Homo sapiens: one gene and its partners. The protein of the gene in region 7 purifies or fractionates together with the protein of the main gene of each other region. This does not show direct contact. Each region holds a gene or a part of one and is shown on either strand. Other genes may lie near its edges.

What was found.
Region 1: the proteins of EXOC5 (region 7) and EXOC2 fractionate together in Homo sapiens (co-fractionation; 4 studies listed by BioGRID and IntAct, with this or other methods). This does not show direct contact.
Region 2: the proteins of EXOC5 (region 7) and ARMC6 purify together in Homo sapiens (co-immunoprecipitation; one large-scale study listed by IntAct). This does not show direct contact.
Region 3: the proteins of EXOC5 (region 7) and VSIG1 purify together in Homo sapiens (co-immunoprecipitation; one large-scale study listed by IntAct). This does not show direct contact.
Region 4: the proteins of EXOC5 (region 7) and FAM20B purify together in Homo sapiens (co-immunoprecipitation; one large-scale study listed by IntAct). This does not show direct contact.
Region 5: the proteins of EXOC5 (region 7) and VIPR2 purify together in Homo sapiens (co-immunoprecipitation; one large-scale study listed by IntAct). This does not show direct contact.
Region 6: the proteins of EXOC5 (region 7) and RAB8A purify together in Homo sapiens (affinity purification with mass spectrometry; one large-scale study listed by BioGRID and IntAct). This does not show direct contact.

What each region holds. Positions count from the first base shown.
Region 1 is NC_000006.12:683,140-686,639, reverse strand, and holds part of EXOC2 (exocyst complex component 2), read left to right. Parts: intron 1-3,500. UniProt on the Homo sapiens protein: Component of the exocyst complex involved in the docking of exocytic vesicles with fusion sites on the plasma membrane.
Region 2 is NC_000019.10:19,047,103-19,050,602, forward strand, and holds part of ARMC6 (armadillo repeat-containing protein 6), read left to right. Parts: intron 1-3,500.
Region 3 is NC_000023.11:108,062,065-108,065,564, forward strand, and holds part of VSIG1 (V-set and immunoglobulin domain-containing protein 1 isoform 2 precursor), read left to right. Parts: intron 1-2,645; coding exon of another isoform or gene 2,646-2,723; intron 2,724-3,500.
Region 4 is NC_000001.11:179,073,981-179,077,067, forward strand, and holds the end of FAM20B (glycosaminoglycan xylosylkinase), read left to right. Parts: 3' UTR 1-2,587; downstream 2,588-3,087. UniProt on the Homo sapiens protein: Responsible for the 2-O-phosphorylation of xylose in the glycosaminoglycan-protein linkage region of proteoglycans thereby regulating the amount of mature GAG chains.
Region 5 is NC_000007.14:159,036,868-159,040,367, reverse strand, and holds part of VIPR2 (vasoactive intestinal polypeptide receptor 2 isoform 1 precursor), read left to right. Parts: intron 1-3,465; coding exon 3,466-3,500. UniProt on the Homo sapiens protein: G protein-coupled receptor activated by the neuropeptides vasoactive intestinal peptide (VIP) and pituitary adenylate cyclase-activating polypeptide (ADCYAP1/PACAP).
Region 6 is NC_000019.10:16,125,389-16,128,888, forward strand, and holds part of RAB8A (ras-related protein Rab-8A), read left to right. Parts: exon of another isoform or gene 1-81; coding exon 82-159; exon of another isoform or gene 160-1,599; intron 1,600-2,048; coding exon 2,049-2,138; intron 2,139-2,637; coding exon 2,638-2,703; intron 2,704-3,500. UniProt on the Homo sapiens protein: The small GTPases Rab are key regulators of intracellular membrane trafficking, from the formation of transport vesicles to their fusion with membranes.
Region 7 is NC_000014.9:57,230,906-57,234,405, forward strand, and holds part of EXOC5 (exocyst complex component 5), read right to left. Parts: intron 3,128-3,500; coding exon 3,083-3,127; intron 2,979-3,082; coding exon 2,838-2,978; intron 1,845-2,837; coding exon 1,762-1,844; intron 811-1,761; coding exon 601-810; intron 1-600. UniProt on the Homo sapiens protein: Component of the exocyst complex involved in the docking of exocytic vesicles with fusion sites on the plasma membrane.

The DNA of each region.
Region 1 (3,500 bases), on a different chromosome or scaffold from region 7:
AGAACAGCTGAGTAATCCGGTATATATATAACAGATCTCTTTTATGGGGGCTCTGAGAGCTAAGTTGTCAGGCATTCCCTATATACTTGTCTGGCTTCCAGTATTCCTTCCTAGTCATCTCATGCACATTCTCGTCCCCTTAATCTCTCACCTCCAAACATTGTAGAGGGAGGGAAGGCCTTTATTCCCATTCCTAAAATAAATAAATAAAAATCAAGTGTCATTTATCAGTTATATGGTTTAAATTATTGGATTATTTTCCCAAAAGAATTAAAATATAAACAAATATGCTTTCATTTGAAACCATAGATAGTAGTTCATGTATTTTTTTGTTTGTAGAGGTAGAGAAGGAAAAGAAGTATAAAAAGAGGTCCAGGAGGCCGGGCGCGGCGGCTCACACCTGTAATCCCAGCACTTTGGGAGGCCGAGGAGGGCGAATCATGAGGTCAGGAGTTTGAGACCATCCTGGCCAATATGATGAAACCCCGTCTCTACTAAAAATACAAAAAAATTAGCTGGGCATGGTGGCGCATGCCTGTAATCCCAGCTACTTGGGAGGCTGAGGCAGGAGAATCGCTTGAACCAAGGAGTCGGAGGTTGCAGTGAGCCCCACTGCACTTCAGCCTAGTGACAGAGTAAAACTCCGTCTCAAAAAAAAAAAAAAGAGGTCCAGGAAAGCAGGATACATTAATACATTACTTCTTACCTGTTCAGTCCAACCTGGCGACAGAGCAAGACTCCGTCTCAAAAAAAAAAAAAAAAAAAAAAAAGAGGTCCAGGAAAGCAGGATACATTACTTCTTACCTGTTCAGTCCTCCCCTTCTGCAAATGGCCCTTCTGAGACCCAGCGAGTCTTCTGCCCTTATCAGGCCGTAACTCTATACAATTTGGCCCCTATGAGTTCTTTCAGATCTGTGCATGCTTGTATTTTTGTTAACTATGATTTGGGGATGGAGCAGGAGGAGCAAGAGGATTAATTTGGAAAACTGGATTACAGAGTTCATGACCCTGTCTCTGAGACTTGTCCCACTGTGTGCTGTTATATGGTAGAATTTGTGGCAGTGCTAATGTAACTTGCACTTGATCTCACTCAGGAAGTGTGGAGTCTGTGTTTATAGAGAACTGGGGAAGAAAATCACCATTTTCCCGAACCCTTTCCCCAATATCTCTGGGCAATCCCTTTGGGTCCAGCCCAACCCAGCCCAGCAGGGACAAGTCTGTCTTAGGTTAGGTTGGGCCTGACTCTAGAAAGATTTGGTGAATTCTCTACTTTGATTATATTTTATGGTGCCCTGAGAGTTGGCTGAGCCTAATTTTACTGTTGAAACTCACTAGGCAGCTCTGCAACAGGATTCTTCTGGGGTCCTCTGGACCCAAAGTGGTTCTGGACAGCTAAGGCTACTGAGATTCTGCTTGATTTGTTCCCTGGTGATGCCAGTGCTGCCAGGTTGAGGCATATATGGGGAAGGGTGGACGTTTGGGAGGGTTGTGTGTGTGTGTGTGTGTGTGTGTTTTCAAATGATTGTGGGGAAAATCACCTTTCTATAGTCTGATCTGTTAGCGAAATAGTGTTTTCACATCATGAGGCCTTCCGTGGCCTGTTGAGTAGAGGTTATCCTAGTCTTCAGTGAGTCAGAACTTCTGTATTTTTCTGGTTCCTGGCCTTCTCTAGCTGAGAAGAACATCTGGGAGCATGACAAGGTGAGACCGTGATCACTCATTTTGTTCAGATTTCTTGTCTGCTGTTGAAATCAGCGAAACTCTTCATTACTAAATAGTAAAAAGTACTGCTTTTATGATTCTAAAACTACTTTCAGTTGTGGTTTCATTTCTGATTTTTTTCTTTATATTATTACTGCTAACTTTTTCTGTGTATTTTTAGTCTGAAGTTCTGTGAAAAATGACAACTTACTGTCTTTTTTTCTAGTAGTAAATATTTTGGAAAATTAAAATTGTGCCACAGTTTTAATTTGAGAAATTAAATATGGGAAAATTATAGAATTAAAATTTTCTGACTTCTGTTGCAGAAAACACTTTAAATCCATCCCTGTATGCTTCATTAAAGGAAAAGAGGCAGATGGTTTAAAATTAATATAGTATATCTATAAGGAAAATGTATTTACTTAAGTGTACAGTATAAATTGTAAGAAAATGTGGCCTTTTGTCTTGATTTTAGTGAAATGCTTTTGTAATAGTAATTTTCTCTTTTGACCTGTGATGGATAGGAGGTTAATTGATGTTAAATGGATGCTTTGTTAATCCTTCATCAGCTACTAAATTGGTATGGGGGAGTACAGGTCAAGACTACACAAGGCCATGACCAGCTTGTTTTCTCAGGGAGGTTTATGGATTCCACCCCTCCCCCTTCTCTAAACCACACATCACTCTCTCCAGCTGCACATAGGGAAGACTCTCCTGTCTCCCCTCCCCCTCTTCCTGCGGTCCTGTCTCCCCCTCCCTAACCTCATCCTTCTCCCTCTCTGGGCTGCTGCAGAGTGACAGCTTGTAGATGTTGCGTGCGAGGGAGTTCAGCTGGCGCTGTGTGGTCCGAGTGTGTGGTCTCCCGCTCAGCCGAGAGGCTGCTAACAGGGTGGATGAGAGAGAGAGCAACACTGTTTACTTTAATTTATTTCGGATGCCGGAATTGTGCCCAGAGTTTCTCCTGAGCTTGATTCCATAGCTAGCAGCTTCAATCCTTCGCAGCTGCGGTGCGTTCTGAACTCTGGGCTGTCCTTTCCTGACAGGCACTTTCCATAGCATCTGCCTGCTTAATCCCTCACGGCTCAGAAATGTTAACGGCACTGTTGAGTGCTGTGATTATTTTGCTTTCACTATGTCAAGATTTATGGCCTTCGAGAAGCTTCTTTTGAGATAGAGCTAGAGAAGGAAAGCAGAATTTGTAAGATCAGTGACAAAGTTGATGTATTTTTGGAAATTGGAAAAGCTATTATACAAAATTTGGGTCAAATTAATCCAACTTTGCTCATATAAAAGAACCTGGGAGTTAGCGACATCCTGTCATGTTTAACAGTTTTAATGAAATTAACCAATTTAAGCTGACGGTTGGTTTCTTGACCTTTTCTGAAACTCTGCATTGATTTTGGCATGCCTGTTTACCATAGTTATTATATTTGTCAGCGGTGATATTGGTTTATTTCATCCTAAAGATTTGACAAGTCGAGACAAATGAAACTTTGTTTTTATGTAGTAGTATAAATTTAGGAGAATATCTTTTTATCCAATCCTTTCATTATGAATAGCTTAGTAATATTTTCTTGATTTTGTTCCTCTCTCATTCCTGAACATTATTGTTGAGATGGTCAAGTATTTTGTTATTTGAATAAACATATGTAGACTCTTGATATCACTTGGGATTTTGCATTGTTTAGCTTCTTTATTTTCATGTCTTCCTGGCAGTCTTGCTGGAATGGAGTTGGTGGTGTTGATGTTTGTCAAGGATTAGAAAGTCTAGGCCACTCACATCTTCCCGCAAGGTCAGT
Region 2 (3,500 bases), on a different chromosome or scaffold from region 7:
GCCACCATGCCTGGCTAATTTTAAATTTTATTTTTCATTAAGGAAGAGTGGAAATACATTCTTAGCATAAAGGATTCAAGCAATACTCAAGCATTTATAGTAAAATCTGAAAGTCCCTGCCTTGTCCCTCCCACCAGACACTGGGGTTTGCATCTCAGCGGTCAGTTCGCAACTGAACCAACCCCCTTCTCAAATGCCCTGCAGCATAATTGACCTTTGTGCATCTTGGCTTAGATGTGTAAAAAATGCTTATCTGTTGAGGGAGAAAAAAATTCAACATTGTGATGGTCGTTGAAATTAATCTGTTTGTGTCATAAGATTTGTTGCAAACAGGCTTGTAGAAACAGAAGGAAAATAATGTCTGGAGACTGTCCAGGGAAAAACTGAGCCAGCCAGGCCACATTTATATGTGGGAAGTTGTAGAATGAAAGGCATTAGTCACAGAGACTGAATGACTCCAGGAGTCAATGGGTAAAGCCCCCCTCCATGAGCAAGGTGGTGAGCGCCACAGAAAATTGTCATAGGTAGAACACAGCTGGCTCTGCCACCTGCATTTTAGCAACCATCTGTCAATGAAAATACTCTATAAAATATTTCAAGAGATTTATTCGGAACCAAATATGAGTGACCAAAGGCCCATGACACAGCCTCGGGAGCTCCTGAGAACATGTGTCCAAGGTGGTCGGGCTACAGCTTGGTTTTATACGTTTTAGGGAGACATGAGATATCAATCAATACATGTGAGACGTACATTGGTGTGGTCTGGAAAAGTAGGGCAGCTGAAAGCCGGGGCTTCCAGGTCATAGACACATTTAAAGATTTTTCTGGCCAGGTGCTGTGGCTCACGTCTGTAATTTCAGCATTTTGGGAGGCTGAGGTGGTCGGATTGCATCGAGCTGAGGAGTTTGGGACCAGCCTGGCCAACATGGCAAAACCCATCTCTACAAAAAATACAAAAATTAGGCCACGTGTGGTGGCTCACACCTGTAATCCCAGCACTTTGGGAGCCCAGGCAGGTGGATCACCTGAGGTCAGGTGTTCGAGACCAGCCTGGCCAACATGATGAAACCCCGTCTCTACTAAAAATACAAAAATTAACCGGGCATGGTGGCAGGTGCCTGTAACTCCAGCTACTCAGGAGGCTGAGGTAGGAGAATTGCTTGAACCCGGGAGGCAGAGGTTGCAGTGAGCCAAGATTGCACCATTGCACTCCAGCCTTGGTAACAAGAGCGAAATTGCATCTCAAAAAAACAAAAAACAAAAAACAAAAATTAGCTGGGCATGGTAGTGGGTGCTTATAATCCCAGCTACTTGGGAGGCTAAGGCGGGAGAATCACTTGAATCCAGGAGGCGGAGGTTGCAGTAAGCCGAGATCATGCCACTGTACTCCAGCCTGGGCAACAGAATGAGACTCAGAAAAAAAAAAAAAAGATTTTCTGATTGAAAGAGTTATCTAAAGACCTAGAATCAATAGAAAGGAATATTTTGCTTAAGACGGGTTGTGGAGATCAAGGGTTTATCAAGGAAGCCTCCAGGTAGCAGGCTTCAGAGAAAATAGATTGTAAATATTTCTTATCAGACTTAAAAAGGTGCCAGACTCTTAGTTAATTCTCTCCTGAATCAGGGAAAAGACCTGGAAAGGGAATCTCTGTAGAATGTAGCTTTTCCCCACAAGAGATAGCTTTGCAGGGCCATTTCAAAATATGTCAGAGAAATATATTTTAGGGTAAAATACTTTGATTTCTTTCCATACTGTATTAGTTAGGCTGGAACTTGGTGTCTTATTGCTACAAAAAAGTCTTACGATGATCAGTTATGTCTGACTTCCAAAGGCAGGAAGATAAAATGAGACATATTTGACCGCCACTTCCCATCATGACCTGAAGTAGTTTTTCAGGTTACCTTTGGAATACCTTTGGCCAAGAGGAGGGGTCCTTAGTATGGATGAGGACTTAGATTTTTTTTTTTTTTTTTTTTTGAGACAGGGTCTCCCCAGCTAGAGTGCAGTGGTGTGATCTTAGCTCACTGAAACCTCTGCTTCCCGGGCTCAAGCAATTCTTCAGCCTCAGCCTCCCATGTAGCTGACTACATGGTGTGAGCCACCAACATCTGGCTAATTTTTGTATTTTTTTTAGAGACAGGGTTTTACCACGTTGCCCAGGCTGGTCTTGAACTCCTGAGCTCAAAGCGATACACCTGCCTTGGCCTCCCAAAGTGAAGAGATTACAGGCATGAGCCACCATGCCCGGCCAAGAATTTTATTTTTAGTTTACACATCCTTGCTAACTTAGTAATTCCTTGTGAAATCTTGGTAGTTCTAACTCCAATACTGTGCATCCTCAAAGGCATTTCTGTCAGGAGCTTTTCAAGTTTCTTACAGGGTTTCTGCTGAAGTGCTACACCGCTGTTTGTTATGTAAAATGTGCATAAAAACATTTACCATTGTAACCATTTTTAAATGTAGAGTTCAGTGTCATTAAGTACATTCATAATGTTGTGCAACCATCATGACTATCCATGACTTGCGATACTGAAACAAACTCCATGTTCCTCTTCCCCTCAGCCTCTAGCAACCATCATTCTACCTTCTGTTGCTGCAAATTTGACTACTCCAGGACCTCATATAAATGGAATCACAGGCTGGCCACCCTGGCTTATGCCTGTAATCCCAGCATTTTGGGAGGCTGAGGTGGGCAGATCACTTTGAGGTCAGGAGTTAGAGACCAGCCTGGCCAACATGGTGAAACCCTGTCTCCACTAAAAATACAAAAATTATCCGGGCGTGGTGGCACATGCCTGTAGTCCCAGCTGCTCAGGAGGCTGAAGCGGGAGGATTGTTTGAACCCAGGAGGTGGAGGTTGCAGTGAGCTGAGATGGTACCACTCCACTCCAGCCTGGGTGACAGAGGAAGACTCCATCTAAAAAAAAAAATTTTTTTTAAATAAATGGAATCACAGTATTTGTCTTTTGGTGACTGTCTTATTTCACTTAGCGTAATGTCCTCAAGGTATATCCATAGCATACTATGTGCCTGAATTTCTTTGTTGTCATTGTAGTGTTTTTTTGTTTGTTTGTTTTTCTTTTTGGAGACAGAGTCTCTCTCTGTCGCCCAGGCTGGAGTGCAATGGCACGAGCTCAGCTCCCTGCAACCTCCAACCTCTTGGCTCTGATGAATCATGCTGCTATGAACATGGGTGTACAGGTATCTCTTTGAGACTGTGCTTTCAGTTCTCTTGAGTGTATCCCCAGAAGTGGAACTGATGGGTCACACAGTAATTCTGTTTGATTTTCTTTTTTGAGATGAATGCTCCGTATGTTGCCCAGGCGAGTCTTGAACTCCTGGGATCAAGTGATCCTCCTGCCTTGGCCTCCCAAAATGCTGGGATTACAGGCATGAGCCACCACGCCTGGCTTCTCTGTAGGTTTGAATTGCATTTTTCCTAATGATTAGTGACATTGAGCATCTTTTCATGTATTAGTGGCCATTTGTATGTATTCTT
Region 3 (3,500 bases), on a different chromosome or scaffold from region 7:
GGCAGGCTAACATGGAAATTTGGGGTGGTCTGGTGCCTTTCTGGTCACACAGATGGCTTCATCTTCCATCCAGTCTGTTAATGCTAACACTACAGAGACCCCACCTGTCCCTGAACAGACCATGCCTTGACTCTGCTTAGCATGAATCTCTCAGACAATACTTATTCTTCAAGAATGTTCATAGTGAAAAAATACCCTTTGCCAGTCTCATAAACAACTTAGACAACTTCTTTCCCAGGACCTAGTGTTCTTATGTTCTCTGGCTTCTCAGGTTTTACAACCTGAAATACACAGGACAGAGCCACACAATAAAGAGTTGTCTGCCCAAAATGCCAGTGTCACCCCTACTGAGAAATACTGCAAGTTCTTCCCCACCCCACCATCAAATTTATGTATTGTGTCCCATTCACTTTCTGCTAAATCTGATAAATTAATCTCATGGTAAGGTGTTAGGGACTAGCGAAAGCTTATTTTATTCTCTTCTAAAGAATGCATTGAATGGGACCTTCCATGCCTTCTTCCAAAAGGAGCAACTCAAATGGCAGATACCCAGGCAAATGGAGGGTTGGTAAGAGAGTTGGTTTGGAAGCAAGAGAGTCTTTCTTTTGGTATCCCATTCCTTCCACATGCCATCCCTGCACCACAATACAGTCCAAATAAAATTCTGAGCTTGTGACCATTGCCACCTTATACCTGCACACCCCTTCCCTATCCTATGGCTAGCCCCTCTATCAGCAGTACAAGAAAGCAAGAAGCTGGAAAGGAAAGAATGGGTGGTTTGCTGTGGATGTCCATGTCCTCCACCTTCCCAGAAGGAATCTGCAAAAGCAGCTCTGGAAGCTAACTCCAACTCAGATTCAAACAGAAAGCAGACTGAATTCTTTCAACCCTTCTTGTTTATACTCCATGCTTCTAGTTAGAGAGCAGTGTCACTAAGCTGAGGAAAAAGTCTTTTAGGACAAATCTGGTTCCCAGCTGCACGGCCTTGTGTGAATAGGAACTTGGCACAGTAGGAAGGGAAAGGTTGCTCTGCAAAGAACTGAGGGGCCTACAATTGCAGCTGGCAAATATTGAGGGCATCATGTGGTGAACATACTCAGCATGGGAAGCATCATGCCAATAAATAGCAACAATTGGCAGGAGAAAGGTTGGGCTGGAGCAGGGAATGGAATGGTCCCAAAAGGAGAAGGTTGCCCAGGAATCATCTTTCTCATCTTAAGAAGCACTGTGAGTGCCATCTTAATATATTCAGTGGGAATCAGAAGGTCTGAATTCCAGGTCTGACTGTAAATTGTGTGACCTTGGGAAAATGGCTCCCTCTATTGAGGCCTCGGTGTCCTTTTTTTGTATTAGAAAAGGATGAATTCGAGTTTACTAACCGCAGGCCTCTGGGTCAGATTTGGCCAGTGGATGTATTTCAGTCGGCCTGCCCAGTATTTTGTTTGTTTGTTTCAACAGTTCGAATGCCTTGTTTGCGTTGACTTTTCCGTTCCCTGCAGTCCCCATATCTGTTATGAGCTTACCACTACTTACCAGCCCCTCCCAGCCATTTCCCATATTTCCAATATCCATCGGGCTCCTGAAGGCCCCTTAACCTTAGAAACCACAAACCAAACTATCTCACAGAGGTCTTATAATTAATGTGCAATTATGACTCCACCCATCAGCCTCTAGCGTCACCCTGGGGGCAGGCAGAGAGGACCTTGGGAGAAAGCAGGGCAGTCTACCATGAACCCAAGCACAAAGTGCAGGTGGGTAAAAAATTAACAAGCGCCCCTTAAGGGAACACTGGGATGGATTTCCTTAAAAAAATCACCTCCTCCCCACCTCCACCCAAAGATGTGGCCCATTGTACATCCGGGGCTTTTTCTGGATCTCCATTGCTTTGACGTCTAAATTGATAATATTCTTTCTTTGAAAAGTGTACAAGCCACACAGGATCATGGGCCAGGCTTTGGCCACTGTTCAGCTTTGATTTTTAAAAGAGTTATTCTTTTATGGAAAGTGGAATCAAGTTGTAGCCCTTCCTATATGATTAGATAAGCAGTTTCAGGAAAACACTTCTTTCTTTTTTTCTTTACAAGGACAGTGTGACTGTGTGGACTTCCCCTTAACAGAAAGCCCCTCCATGTATGTGTCTGGCTGCTGCTGTCTACCCCTAGGTACTTTACTTCTTACAGAGAACTGTGAAGCCAAAGCCTTGGCTCTTTTAGGTCTCCATTGTTAGCCCTCACTACCCCCATTTCTGTCTCTAATACCTTTTAGTGTCAATCGTGAGAGGGCAAAATGTATTAGACTACAGCATGAGGAGCTAGCATGTAAGAGGTAGTAAAGGTCTTTTTCATGGGTAAGGTTCCAGGGCCTCATTGCTTATATACTCATTTCACCTTGACTCATGCCCAACTATGGGACTTTTACAGTGGGCATGGACACATGGATACAGTGGACACTTTTACTTCTTCTCATATCCTAATTCTGGCCTAAAACACACCATTTTGGCCTCAAGATCTCTGCAGAAATAAGGTCCTTTTCACCTGGATCCTCTGGGACTTGCTGTGGGCCTCAGGCGTGACTGATGTTGTATCTCATTGTGATGTCATCAAGCATCAGTATAAAACAGGGCTGATGTTTTACACTGTCCACAGTCTCCTTGGGAGGAGGGGAAGTGGCCAGATGTTGAGGCTGTGAAGGGCACTCTTGATGGACAGCAGGCTGAACTCCAGGTAAGAAACAACAAGACCTCAAACTGTCAATTAGAAAGTAAATAAGCCCCATGCTGCCTAGTGAAATTGAAAGCCTGATAGCGTGGGTGCCAACTCAAATGAAAGTAATCCTCTGATGTATTGAACCTCCTTCTGTCCCACTTGAATACCTGGAGTTAATCCTGGCTTTCTGGTTTGGAAGTCAAACAAGACCATTCTGGGGCAAGAGTTTGTGATTTCAGTAGGTGTGAATGAATGAATTATAAATGGCTGCATTTATAATGCAAGCAAGAAAACACGTTGATGTTAGAAAAAACGGGAGAGAAACAAATAGTTTTCTCTGTAAATGTACTCTTTTCCTGGGATTTTTCCCTCAAAATCCAGCTTTCTGCCTTAGTTTTAAAATATATTGACTTTCTGCTTAAAGGAGAATACATTTGAATTCATCTAGACAATATCTTTTGGTTTTCTAATTGCTTTCCCTCTTTTATTGGCCTGTTAAGGTAAAGCCCACAGTACAAGGAATTAGGAAAATTGGATTCCAGATCTGTCTCAACCGTCAATTTTGCCTTTTATTTTTTAACCTCTCTGGGCTTTGGTTTCTTCTGTAAACTGAGGGAAGTGAATTAAATGAACTGTAAGGCCTTCCAGTAGATTTTATGAAAAATTAGTCTCACCAGACTAAGACAATACAGTTTATTGAACAATAACAATCACTTGAATAATATACATTTACATGAAACCAACAAAACATGTACATAGAAGGTGTGTATTATGAAGGGACCTCAGGAATTACCT
Region 4 (3,087 bases), on a different chromosome or scaffold from region 7:
ATATATAAACAGTGTGGTTGAATACATTTAATGCCAGCCATTGGAAACTAGTTTTAGGCAACCACTCTCAAAAACAGCTTTAGAATTTATGCCCAGTTTTCTTGCATTGAAAGATAACTGAGTAATAACCTGTAACTATTTTTAAATGGCATGAAATTAGGAAACTTTTGTACATTTTATATACATTTTGAGATGAACAGAACAATGGGCTGAGTTATAAAAAGCGTGTATTGAATTTAAGAAGACAGACTAGCACAAAACACAGAATTCGTGTTAACCAAAGGAGGCATTGATTTCAGTTTTAAGGCTACTCAGTGTTGTGTGTCCAGGGAAATTCACAGCTCAGTATGAGAATACCTTGGTTAGTGCTCACCCACAAGCTTCCAGGAGCCAGCTGGGAGGAGACAATAGGAAGAGATGTCATCTCTGCTCTCCCTGTAAATGTTAGTTGAACTAAGTTATGGATTTGTGGTCTTTCAAATACATGACGCCTTTAGTATGCCACACTGAAATGAATAAGAAGTCTTCTGAAACTGGGAACTTCATAACATTGAAGGCAGAAGATTCTGCTAAGGAAAAAAGCAGGCAGGAAAGAAAATGTCTCATCCTTTCTTGAAAGCATTTGCAGAAAATATATCATTTCATTTTATTCCCATCTGTTTTCAAACTCGTGATCTTAAAAGGCATTCTGATGATAAATTTAGAATTTTCATCTATAAAATTTAGAACTCTAATCCATAAAGTTAGAATTGAGCTAATAGAGTGGTATGACATGGCACTAAAAATATAAATTTTTGTTGTAAGTCAGGATTGGAGTAAGCTGGAAAAGTATGTTTAGGCAAATCTTGGAGAAAACCAACCATAAACTTACAGCTCTAAAATTCAGAAAGCCCTAAAATTTCAAACACTGTTTGAAAGAAGAGGTGGGGGCCGGGTGCCGTGGCTCATGCCTGTCATCCCAGCATTTGGGAGGCTGAGGCAGGCAGATCACCTGAGGCCAGGAGTTCGAGACCAGCCTGGCTGGCTAGCATGGTGAGACCGTCTCTACTAAAAATGCAAAAATTAACAGGGCACGGTGGCATGCGCCTGTAGTCCCAGCTACTCGGGAGGCTGAGGCAGGAGAATCACTTGAATCCAGGAGGCGAAGGTTGCAGTGAGCTGAGATTGTGCTGCTGCACTCCAGCCTGGGAGACAGAGCGAGACTCTGTCTTAAAAAAAAAAAAAGGAGGTGAATTTTTTTTTAAGTTTTGTAACACTGTCCTACTTTATTTATTAGAATCTAAGGCTGTTACAATCAAGTCGTTGCAGGGTTTGGATCAGCTGTAAGTTAGGTATGCCTACCAAACATCCAAAGGTAGACGTGGAGACATTTTAATACTACAAAACTAGGAAAATCAGAACTCATGGCCATTTCCTGCCCTCCTCCAACTTGTTAAAACATGTTTATTCTAAAGTTCGAATGGATAAATTTGAGTATAAAGGTTTTGTTATAAAACTGTTCTTTAGTGTAAGGCTGCATTGTGGGTTTGGGGGAAATGTAAATAATTTTCTGTGTAAAACAAATTCATAGGATCTGATTTGCTCAGAGTATTATTCAAGAATGTATTAATAAGGCATTGCCCCCTGTTTGCACTCAGGGTTAATATGTCAAATGAAATTTAAGAAGGAAATGGAAGAATTCAGGTACATTAATTGCATATTATTTTGGGAAAGATGAGTCCTATACGTGGCAATTTTTCAATGTCATCTGAAGCCAGCATTATCTTCCAAAGAAATCGATCTTTTTTTTCTAAAAAAAAAAAATGCTTTTGCCTTCCCTTCCCTTCCCATCCGCCATATTTCTTCAGCCTTTCTTCTCGATCACCCGTGTATTCTTTGACCAGTAAATGACCACACCTCAATGATGGTAAAACAGCATCATCAGTAAGCTATCTTATATGCCTCATCCTGTGAGTTTGAGCTTCAGGAAACATGAGTAAAAGTATATGTAATGTATATAGTCGTATATGTATTCTAGCAAGAAAAACATATTTATTTTGACAAAGGGGAACACTGACTTTCTGAAGGATTCAGAAAGAACCTTAGTGAAAGGTTCTCAGTCTCTGAGAGTGGACCCTAATTAACATAAAGACCATTCATCAGCGAATAACTACTGAGCAACTCTAGTGTGCCAGCACAGGCCAGACATACTAGTGAGCCAGGCACATCTGGCCTTGGGAAACTCATCCTACAGGGGAAGGCCAGTTTTTTTCCCTTCAATTCCTCAAGTCTGGGTGGTGACAAGGTAGGGGCTAGGTACTGGACTACCACAGGTTTTTAGGAACTAAGGTGTTTCTCATAAACACAAAATGTTGGGTGAAACTGGGAACAACTACTCAGAAGCTCATTTATTTGCTTAAATGGAAAGTGTGGGAGCCACTACCCTCTCTTTTGATCTGCCAAGGATTTCCTCTCAGAGCTGTTGCACAGACAGAGATTGTACTTGGTAAGATACCAAACAAGACAGATATGGATCTAAATTTCTAATGTGTTCTATGGGTTTCAATTCTGAAAAAAGAAAATGAATAAAGATTTTAATAAATATTGATATCTGATCTTTTCCTCTTCTTTCCCCCTTCAGGATATTTCCAGTGGTTCCTATTTCAGTTCCCTTCCTGTTAGGGGACAGAAGAAGATTACATCTTTTGTGACCACTTAAACTTCCACAGGGATAGTTTCACAGTACCTGGTGGATTAGACCTTTAAATTTCCTCACCAGTCTTCAAACGGTTCATACTAGATTGTAACTATACCAAAATTTTCTATGGGATCATTGTTAGGTGCTTTTTGTATATTTAATAGTTAACTCCATTTTTGCAGCTTCCTTAGAGGTAAAGAATTATGAATCCTGAAGAACTTGTCAGCACACTACAAAAAAGGCAGGAAGAGAAGGCCAGTTGCCCTAGTAGTACTTCTTAGGACACCTAGATTTTTAACTTTTGAAATAGAATCCAGCATCATAAACCTCAACCAGGTAACTGAGCAAAGCTCTTAAGATTTTTATTGGGCCAGGCACCATGGCTCATGTCTGTAATCCCGGCACTTTGG
Region 5 (3,500 bases), on a different chromosome or scaffold from region 7:
CTCACGTGCTCACACAGAGGCTCCCCGACAAGGCCACGGGGCTGAGGAGGGACCAGCTGTTGACTGGGCACCGGGCCTTGGTGGGTCTCCTGGCCGGGGTTCCTCACATCAACCCTGTGGGTGGCAACTGGCCCTGGAGTTGGGCCCCTCCTGTGGTGCTCTGGAGCCTGTGTAATGAGGTTTGAAGGTCACACTGTAGAAAATGAAGTCAGTAGAGGCCTTGTCATTCCCCAGACCTCCCTTCCTCAGTGTGCTTGTTTGGTGAATGGGCACATGGGAAAAAATGCAGAGATGTTTTTGTTCCCATTTAAGAAGAAAATGGAATCGTCTTCAGCACACTCTTCCTGCGTCCTCTTTGCTCCTTCAGCAGAATGTGCCAGGGCCCCACCAGGTCGGCGCCTGCTTTCAGGCGGCACACGGTCCCTCATGTGGCATGGTGTTCTCCGCGTAGCCCATCCTCTGGTATGGGGCCTGCTCTGCACTTTATTTTTCTCTTTTGCCGCTGCAGGCATCACCGGACATGCGTCTTTATGGACTGGTGTTCTTATTTCTGTCAGGTGGAACTCGCCAGTGAGGTTGCCAGGTCAGAGGGTGTCTCCATCCACGTGTGCTCCTGTCGCAGACATTTACTTCTCAGTTCTGGAGGCCTGAGACCGAGGCACCACCAGATTCGGGTCTGACTTCTCTGTGTCCTCACGTGGTGGAAGGGGCGAGGGATGTTGCTGGGGTCCCTTTACAGGGGCACTAATCCCATCGCAAAGCGCCACCCACTAACACCCTCCCACAGCGGGTGGGGCTTCAACATGTGAATTCTGGCAGCATAAAGAAGCCTCCAGCCCATTGCAAAGGGCATGCATATTTTTATTTTTTGTTTTGTTTTGTTTTGTTTTTTGACACAGACTCACTCTGTTTTCCAGGCTGGAGTGCAGTGGCAGGATCTCGGCTCACTGCAACCTCCACCTCCCAGGTTCAGGCGATTCTCATGTCTCAGCCTTCTGAGTAGCTGGGATCACAGGCAGGTGTCACCACACCCAGCTAATTTTGTGTGTGTGTGTGTGTGTGTGTATTTTTAGTAGAGATGGGGTTTCACTATGTTGGCCAGGCTGGTCTCGAACCCCTGACCTCAAGTGATCCCCCCGCCTTGGCCTCCCAAAGTGCTGGGATTACAGGTGTGAGCCACTGCACCCGGCTGCATGTGTATTTTTAAATTGTAGTAAATCTGTTTTGCTAGATTGCCTTCCAAAAGGCTGAGACAGCTGACAGCTGCACGTGGGATCACACCAGAGCCCAAAGACCTGACTGGTTTTACCATTTTGCCTGTCTGGTGGGCGTTGGCACTGCCTCTGTGGCTCTCATGCACACTCCAGGGCAGCGCACCTGCTGAGAACTGGCATCTTTCCACAAGCTGTTCCGGCCCTCTAAAACACCGCATTCATCTGTAATATTGGCGTCATAAAAATTAAACATTTGTCATTTCTATTGTAAATATGTTTCCAGATTCATGATTTGTCAATTGTATTTTTATGGTATTTTTACCATCTAAAAGCTTTTAAAGTTTATATAACCAAAATTGCTTTCCATCCTTTTAGCACTTCTTGTTTTCATTTCAGATTTCCCGTCTTGGTTAAGAGGTTTCTATTCTGAGATTGTTCATTTGTGTCTTGGTTCATCTGCAGTTTACTCCTTGTGTTTAAGATGCGGTCTTTTACCGAGAGACAAAAGAAGGCACGTTGCATCCCGATGGGTGACTAACTCCCAGAATCTCACCTCCCAGAGATTTTAAAACTTGATTTATTTCACTTTACTTTTCAAATGAGTGGCAGTAAGTCACAAATTGACTTACTGTGACTCTCCTGCATCCATGGCTGTGTTATCATGTGTGTCTTTCCACATAAGAGGCTCTGTCCTGATGCCCAGGGCAGAACTTGCTGGGATCTGAGTGTCCATTCACCAGGCGTTGACACACGAGATCCGCGTGCAGGCACTCGCCTTACTCTGGTGGCAAAGATGGACAATAAGGGTAACTCTCACCTGTGCAGTGTCTCAGAAAATGAAGCACCCACCCTGCTATGCTTGGGAAAAAGGAAAAGCAGAGGAAGGCAAGGCAGATCCAGAGCACTGGGGAGGTCGGGGCCGCCTGCAGGGCTCAGGGGAGGTCGGGGCAGCCTGCAGGGCTCAGGGGAGGCCAGGGACAGCCTGCAGGGCTCAGCGGCTCTCAGGACCCCGGAGGCCAAATTGAAAGGCCACCATATGAAAGTATATCCACCCATATATAAGTGTATCCACCCATATATATAAGTATACCCACCCATATATAAAAAAGTATATTCACCCGTATATATTTATAGGGATAGCCATCTGTTATATGTAGGTAGTATATCCACCCATACATATGTAAGTATATCCACCCACAAATATGTATAGGTGTATCCATCTGATATATGTATCAGATATATATCTGCCATACGTATGTACACCCACCTACATATGTCTATAGATATGAACATAAATACAGAAATAAGAATGGAAATGAAAATACTATTCTTTTTCAGCACACTTTATATAAGCTTAGTGATTAAAAGTAGCAGTTTCATGGTTGCTCATGAAGCTGAAATGCCTGGTACATTTAGTTAGATGAAGGTCTGAGAGATTAAAATAGATGGATTTTATATAATAATGCAATTCTTTCCCAGTGAAAATCCTTTTAAAATGTCCTCAGAAAATATTTTATTTGCTAGATTTCTCTTGTTTTCCCCTTTATTTTTTCATGTTTAGTTAAGTTACCCAATATTAAAACCAGTTTTTTACAATTGAGGAACTTACATAGTTGTCAAAAATTTAAAAAAAAAGTCTGGGGCCTGGTGTGGGTCCACTGCTTTCTCTTCCCAGGCGCTGCTCACCTGAGCTGCTAGTGAGGGCAGCTGGCATGTGCCGCGCCCTCTACCTGCACTCGTGTTCTGTTCACACAAAGGGACAGAGGCCAGAGCCCTGGGCCCCTGCAGGGCCCCTGCCACCCATACCTCGCCCCACACATGACCTCCTGCCGGCTCTTCTGGTTCTTTGCTGGCCGGCAGGACCACTGCGGGGGTTCCCGTGTTGAAGCAGGTCAGAGAAGGGGAAGTGGAGTAGCCGAGGGGAGGAGCTGAGAACGGGAGGGCCAGGGAGCTGTGCGGCCTGTCTAGGACCCTCCAGCAGTGAGTGCGCTCACCTCAGGCAGTGCTGTTCACAGTTGCGTTTGCAGTGATCCTCCTCTGGAGCCGCGGATACAAAGGTCCCAGTGCCACCAGCAGGCATTCCTGGCCAGCGCCCTGGCCTCTGTGTTAATCACTTTCCTTCCCAATGGCACCGGTGTCTCCTTCCTTGCACAGATACCAAGCGCCCTGTGTCCTGGAGCGGCACTGCCTGCTGGTAGCTGCTGTTACCGGATGAGGTCATGCTTTCCTCTCCTCTGTTTGCGGTTTCCAGGTGGGCTGCAAGCTGAGCCTGGTCTTCCTGCAGTA
Region 6 (3,500 bases), on a different chromosome or scaffold from region 7:
CCACTGTTCTCTGGTGCCGCTGAGGCCTCCCTTCCAGAGCCTGCAGCCGATCAGGCACCTGTGTCTTCTCTCCCCGCGCAGGGCATCATGCTGGTCTACGACATCACCAACGAGAAGTCCTTCGACAACATCCGGAACTGGATTCGCAACATTGAGGAGGTGAGGCCCTCCGGCTCCTCCCACTGTCCCTGCTTCAGTCCTTGTCCCAGAGCCCTCTGGTTTACTCATGAGAAGGCCAAGGTGCAGAGACACATACAGGCCACTTGCCCACAGCCTCCTAGTCAGGGACATGGTGGGAGCAGGGACTGAGATGCAAGCAGCCGGCCCCAGGGACCACACACTGGCCTGGCCCCACCCCGGAGCCCCTCGGAGCCCATCCCTCCAGCTAGGCTGTTGGATCTGGCCAGTGTCATGGTTATAAGAGAAAGGATATCCAAGCTTGTGGTCACCATGAGTGTTGGGTGCTTTCTAGAGAAGGAAGGGTCTAGCACAGGTGTGACCCTTGTAGTTGGAGGGTGTGGTGAGCAGGCGTCAGTTGTACTTTGAGCTATATCGGAGCAGGGTGTGACCTGGTACAAACGACCTGTGTTCAGACCTTGAACCATAGAGCAGTGAGAAGTAGGCCAACCCCTCCTCCCCTCCCAAAGCCAGCATCTTCATCTTCTGCTCCCCAAAGAGCTGACCTCACCCCCAAAGCCTTCCTGGCTGCCGGCACCTGCAGCTTTCTATAACTAACCATGTGGGGCTTCAGGTCTGAGGCACAGCCAGAGAACTTTTCCCATCTATAAAACCACAGCAAAAGGGCATATCACTGTCCACCCAGGACTCATGGACCTCCCAGGCCAGGCCGAGAGGCCACCCCATCATTTGTGAGTCATTGCACTGGGCTCACCTCCCCAGTGACCCTGAGAGGGCTGTGCTGCCAAATTTGCCAGTGCAGGGCTGCACCCCAGCTGGGAAAGCTGTCTTCATCCGTGGAGAGGAGGAGAGCCTGGTCTTTGTGAAAGGTCTCTGTTTCTGGCCAGCGGGCAGGAGCCACCTTCTGGTTCATGGGAAGTGAGGCAGGGAGTGGCGCAGTAGGTTCCAGAGACCAAGTCTGAGCTGGTGGAAGAAGACAGCAGTTTCCAGTGTCCCCGTCCTCCAGGAAGCGTGGTCCGCTCCATGGGGACCCAGGGAGACTTGACGAAGGAGCTGCCTTTGGGTATGAGGGCAGAGTTTGGGCAACATCAGACAGGGTGGTGAAGTGCCTGCAGCTGGTGACGGCCTCGAGTTGCGACCACCTCAGGCACGGCCTGTTTCTGGAGCCCAAAAATAGTTGAAATGTCAGGGCCAGGCGAGGTGGCTTATGCCTGTAATCCCAGCAGTTTGGGAGGCTGAGGCGGGCAGATCACCTGAGGTCAGAAGTTTGAGACCAGCCTAGCCAACATGGCGAAACTCTGTCTCTACTAAAAATACAAAAAATTAGCCTGGTATGGTGGCAGATGCCTGTAATCTCAGCTATTCGGGAGGTTGAGGATCGCTTGAACCTGAAGGCAGAGGTTGCAGTGAGCCGAGATCATGCCACTACACTCCAGCCTGGGAGACAGAACGAGACTCCATCTCAAAAAAAAACAAAAAAAAAAGTGTCAAAGCAGAAGGTCCCAGGACAACAGCTGGGGCCTCTTGCAGAGGAGCCAGGGAGGGAAGGAGGAAAGCCAAGGTCGGGGGGTAAATATCTCAGCCTCACTCACCTCCCATAGGCTAGACCCGCCCAGCATCCCAGGTGCGGGGGCTTGATTGATACAGCCATAGAAGCTGCCAGAAAGCATTTCAGAAAATGTGCATTTGCTCAGAGTAGCAGCTAGAACCCTGGCCCCAGCCCTGGCATTGGCTGTGTGACATGGGGCCGGCTGCTTGGCCTCTCTGAGCTTCAGCTTGTCCCTTAGACCAGGCTGTACCTAGCAGTCCTGACCCCACCGCTCTGATTTCTGGGGACAGACTGTGTGTTGGCAGAGGCACCTGGCCTGTGTCATCCGGTCTGATCCCCCGTCTGTCCCCCTCCCTCTCAGCACGCCTCTGCAGACGTCGAAAAGATGATACTCGGGAACAAGTGTGATGTGAATGACAAGAGACAAGTTTCCAAGGAACGGGGAGAAAAGGTGGGCATGGTGGCACAAGGGGCAGAGGGCCTCGGGGTCTTGGGGTTCTTGTGCAGAGGCCTTCCCCTGTCCCTCCTCTGCCCCAGGGGCCTGAGACGAGTTGGTCACCCCAGTGGGGCACGTGCCATGGGATGACAGAAGCACACACCCAGCCGGGGCTTCTTGGGTGCACTCTGCGGGCATCTCATCAAAACCTACCATGGCCCCGCTCCAGACTTTCAAGACCACAGGAGCGGGGAACAGAGCCATAGTTTGATCCCAGCAGGTCCCCGCCACCCTCCCATCTCAGCTGCCATCCCCAGCAACTCCATGCCCTGTGAGGCCCTGTGGAGGGGCATTCACTATAGAATTGAGGGAGTGATCCAGGAAGTCACGCCCACAGCCCCAGCCCTGTTGCTGCTCCCTCTTGGCGCCGGCCCTGCCTTCAGCTCCTGTTTTAGGCAAGCTCAGATGCGCCCGGCGGCTGGTGTGCTCATGCGTGTGCCTCCCTCTCTCACAGCTGGCCCTCGACTATGGAATCAAGTTCATGGAGACCAGCGCGAAGGCCAACATCAATGTGGAAAATGTGAGTCCCGGGCCCTGCTGGGAGACATGGGGCCTGCAGGATCGGCCCCTTCAGGCTAAAGGGGGAGCTGGCGTCCTCCGAGGAGGTCCTGCCAGACGGACCAGCCTCGGGCTCAGGGCTGCCAGTCAGTCCTCTGAGGGACATTTCCTGGGCAGTGCCACGTGCCAAGCACAGGCAGCCCCTGGGAATGTGCCATCAGCAGGGACAGGCACCACAAAGGGCACCTAGGACGCATCTCACGGGCTCTTGGGCAGCCCTGGGGAATAGGCACGGTTTTACAGGTGAGGAAACTAAGGCTCAGAAAGACCCAGCTCTGTGTTTACCCTCTCAGCCACACCACTCACCCTGGAGAGGCCCCTGTCAAAAAAGCCCAGACATAGCAGGGAGCCCTGATGGGACCTGGGCCCATGCCACCCTCCCCTCTCCACGGGGCGACCCCAGCCCTGCGGCCGATCCTGTGATGTTTCCCCATCCTAGTCATGTTTCCAAGGCGGATCTTCCATATCACTCCCGACCTAAAGTCTCTATGCTGACGTGAAGACAAAGGCTAGACTCCTTGCCTGGCGTGGAAGGCCCTCCCTCACCGGCTACAGCTGGTGTTTGCCACCCAGGGCTCAGGCCTTGCCCTCCCCAGGCCACCTGGGCTGCTCCCTTCTCCAATACGTCACTGCATTTCCCTCCTGTGTGCCCCTTTTTCTGCCTGCCAGGTTCCCTTTTCTAGTCAGGGCCTGGCCCTGGGGGCCTCTCCCCAAGAACACCTTCAGTCTCCCCTGGGCCTTCCTCCGCACCCCAAGCCA
Region 7 (3,500 bases):
TCGAGAAAAAAAAAAATGAAAGAAACTATGGAACTTTTTATATTACTAGTGTTCTGCTCGATAGTTTTAAAACATTATTTTTTAATTGACAAATATCTACTTTACTTTTTTTTTTTTTTTTGACACGGAGTCTTGCTGTGTCGCCCAGGCTGGAGTGCAGTGGCGTAATCTTGGCTCACTGCAACCTCCGTCTCCCAGGTTCAAGTGATTCTCCTGCTTCAGCCTCCTTAATGGCTGGGATTACAGGTGTCTGCCACCACGCCCAGCTAATTTTTGTGTTTTTAGTAGAGATGGGGTTTCACCACGTTGGCCAGGCTGGTCTCGAACTCCAGACCTCAGGTGATCAGCCCATCTCGGCCTCCCAAAGTGCTGCGATTACAGGAGTGAGTTACCACGCCCGGCTTACATTTCAATCATGTTATGTTAGGTCATTTCAACATGTGGTTTAAGAACAAGATTTGATCAATAATATAACAATCTGGATTAAAAGAACTCTTCACAGAAAATTCTAATGATAGTCAACATTTGATAATTTGCCCAAATATAATGAAGTTATTAATGTCTTCAGTTTTAACAGAAGTATTTAACAAAAATACTCACCCTCCTGTGCCAATGGATCTCTTTTGATGGTTTTTCGAATCATAATAGCGCTGTAGGATCATAGCACTTCTGCTTTTCAAATATCCAGTCTCCACCTCAATATAGTTCTCCAAATAGGAAATGAAAATGGATTTGATAAGCTTAGACAAGAAAGTCTGTTTATCAGTACCTAAATTAAACTCCATCAGCTTGCTGGAAAGATTGGTGGTTCTTTTCATGAAAAAGGGGGAGAAAAAGATTAATATACATTTTAGGTATAGTAACAATATTAAGGAATACAAATTTTTACAACGTGACTTTCATGACTTATGTTAAGCCACCATTTCTTAAACTCTGGGAGAGTACTTATGATGCAGAGATCAACTCTACAGGGTTACATATAAATACAGTGAAATATTACGAACAACTTTACGGTTTTGAGAACTGTTATAAATTCCTAGGAAAAGAACTTGTGAGGCAATTAACTAGTCCAGAAATGGCGACAGTGGCAGATTGGCCTCAAGTATGTCTAATGCCATTCATCACATGGGACCCAAAACAGAGTACTGAAAGATCTACTGTCTGTTCACCCTCTTTTGTTTTGTCCTTGTGGACTTTCCCTCTAATTTTCTATTTCCCATTGCTGAAGATAGGGTCATAACAGTGTTGTTGTTGAGATGGACTTCCTCATTACGGTAACTTTGGAAAAACCTTCTCCCAAAATGAAGACACTGAAGAAGAGTAATAGGGTTGGGAAAAGTCAAGGAAAAAAAAAACCCCACAAGACTCCATATGAAGCTTCTGAGACAATCTCTAAGAGTAACACTGACATTTACAAAAGCACAAGACAAATTCCTACAGAAGATTTAGAGCTGAAATTGTCATTTGTTAAGATTACATCACTTCCTTTTGCAGTTTCTAAAGTTTTGACTGCAGATAAATGTAATTACACTAATGCTTAGAGAAAAAATAAAGCATAACATCCAATTCCTGACGTTAATGTATTAAGAATGTTGTACAATACAGTCTTGTACAATATAACTAGTCTATACAGCTAAGCATTTAATGCTAAAAGGTAAACTGGTGACAAACTTATTCAAAAATACCTGAATACTTCCTTGTTTTTATCAAAAAAATTTAAAAAATCTGTTATCTATTATTTTCTAATCATTAAAAATTTACCTTGTATACAGATCATAGAGATTTTTGAGATATTGCTCTGCATCGGACTTCCTACATTCTTCTAACTGCTCTTTCACAAAACTCTAAAAGAAAAAGGTTAACATTCTGTTAATTAGGTAAATATTAAATTCTACAACTTCTCAAGATATTTTTCTTTTAAAATTCACTCCACAGTTTTGAACCTTTCTGACTTACAATCCAATCAAAAAGGCAATTACAGAAAACAAACCAATCATAAAATATTTTAAAACAGGTTTTTACATTTTACCACTTCTCATATTTACCTGTAGAGGATCTTTATCAGTCTTAGGAATAATACCTTTTCTGTTAAATTGGCCTATTCTGCTCTGTGAGGTGCATCAAAAAAACAAAACTGAGAGTACAAACAATAGAGTCAATTCCTTAAGGCAGCATCTCCCAAACTGAGTTCCAGGTAACACTAGTGTTCCTTCAGATGTCTATAGGCATTACTCCAAAACAGGGTTTCTTAGACAGTAAATGTGTGAAATGCTGTACATTACATCCCCACTTCTAGAGAATGACAATACTATCAAAATTCCTGAATTGTGTTAAAAAAAAAAAAAAGCAAACATTTATTGAATGTTGTTTAATCCAGTTGTAAACAGCTTAGGAAATGTTATCTGAAAGTACAGTGATATGGGGGTAAATTAAATTTCTGTGTTTTCCCTTTTCAGGTTAGTACCATATTATTAAAAATTCTACAGACTGCTCTTGTAATTCTTGTTCAGTTTCACAAATGACATCTATTGGTGAAGGCAGGGACCAAAAAAAAAGAAAAATCTTCAAGGCTATCTTACCACAATATATTATACTACTACTACGAATACTACACAAATTTCAAGCATGTTCTCTGATGATACTTATTGATTAGCACTTTCTTCTTGGTGAATACAAAACATTTTTTAAAAAGCATGAGGATTCCTTTCTCCTTAACTAGATTACTATTTCTAAGGTCATTACATAAGTAAACTAAATTTTAAAAATACTTTTAAAATATAGGGAAAAAATTACATATTGCTTTAAGAACTATTTAATTTGTTACTATTTAAAATTACCTGTAGTTTGATTTCAAATACATTTTGAATAAGTTTAGCCAGGACTGTTTCTGGATTACTGAAGATATCTCCAACTTGTTTGTTCACTCTTTGACAGAGTATTCCAGCGTCTTCAAATATATCATTTCTCAAATAAGCACCCTAAACAGCAGAGACATTTTATACAGTGAACATATAATTTCTACATGATTTTAAAACAACAATTAGCATAAAATAATATCCAACAAAGTGTACTGTTATGTTACCTCCTGGCACTGCTTTATATAAACATCAACACAATGGGAATAACCCTACAAGGAAGAAACACATTGTTATTATTCTGATTCAATTATAATAATTATTATTTCAAAAAAAGAAGTGTTATATGTCATAAAGCTATGACTATTTACCAGTAAATGGCCAATAGCAACACCTGTTGGACTTAAATAAAATTAACTGCAGAAAACCAGTAACTTGATAAAGGTATCGTCTCCCTAGTCACTTTCTATGATAAAATTTATCAGTTGGTACATATCCTTGTTGAACTTTAGACTAAAACAAGAAAGATGAAGTATGTAACTGAGTTCTTTAGAGTAATTTTTGTCCTATGATCATCTAGCCATCTCCTTCAACTCCAAAACACACCCACTCACACCCACCCACACACATACACACAAACACACA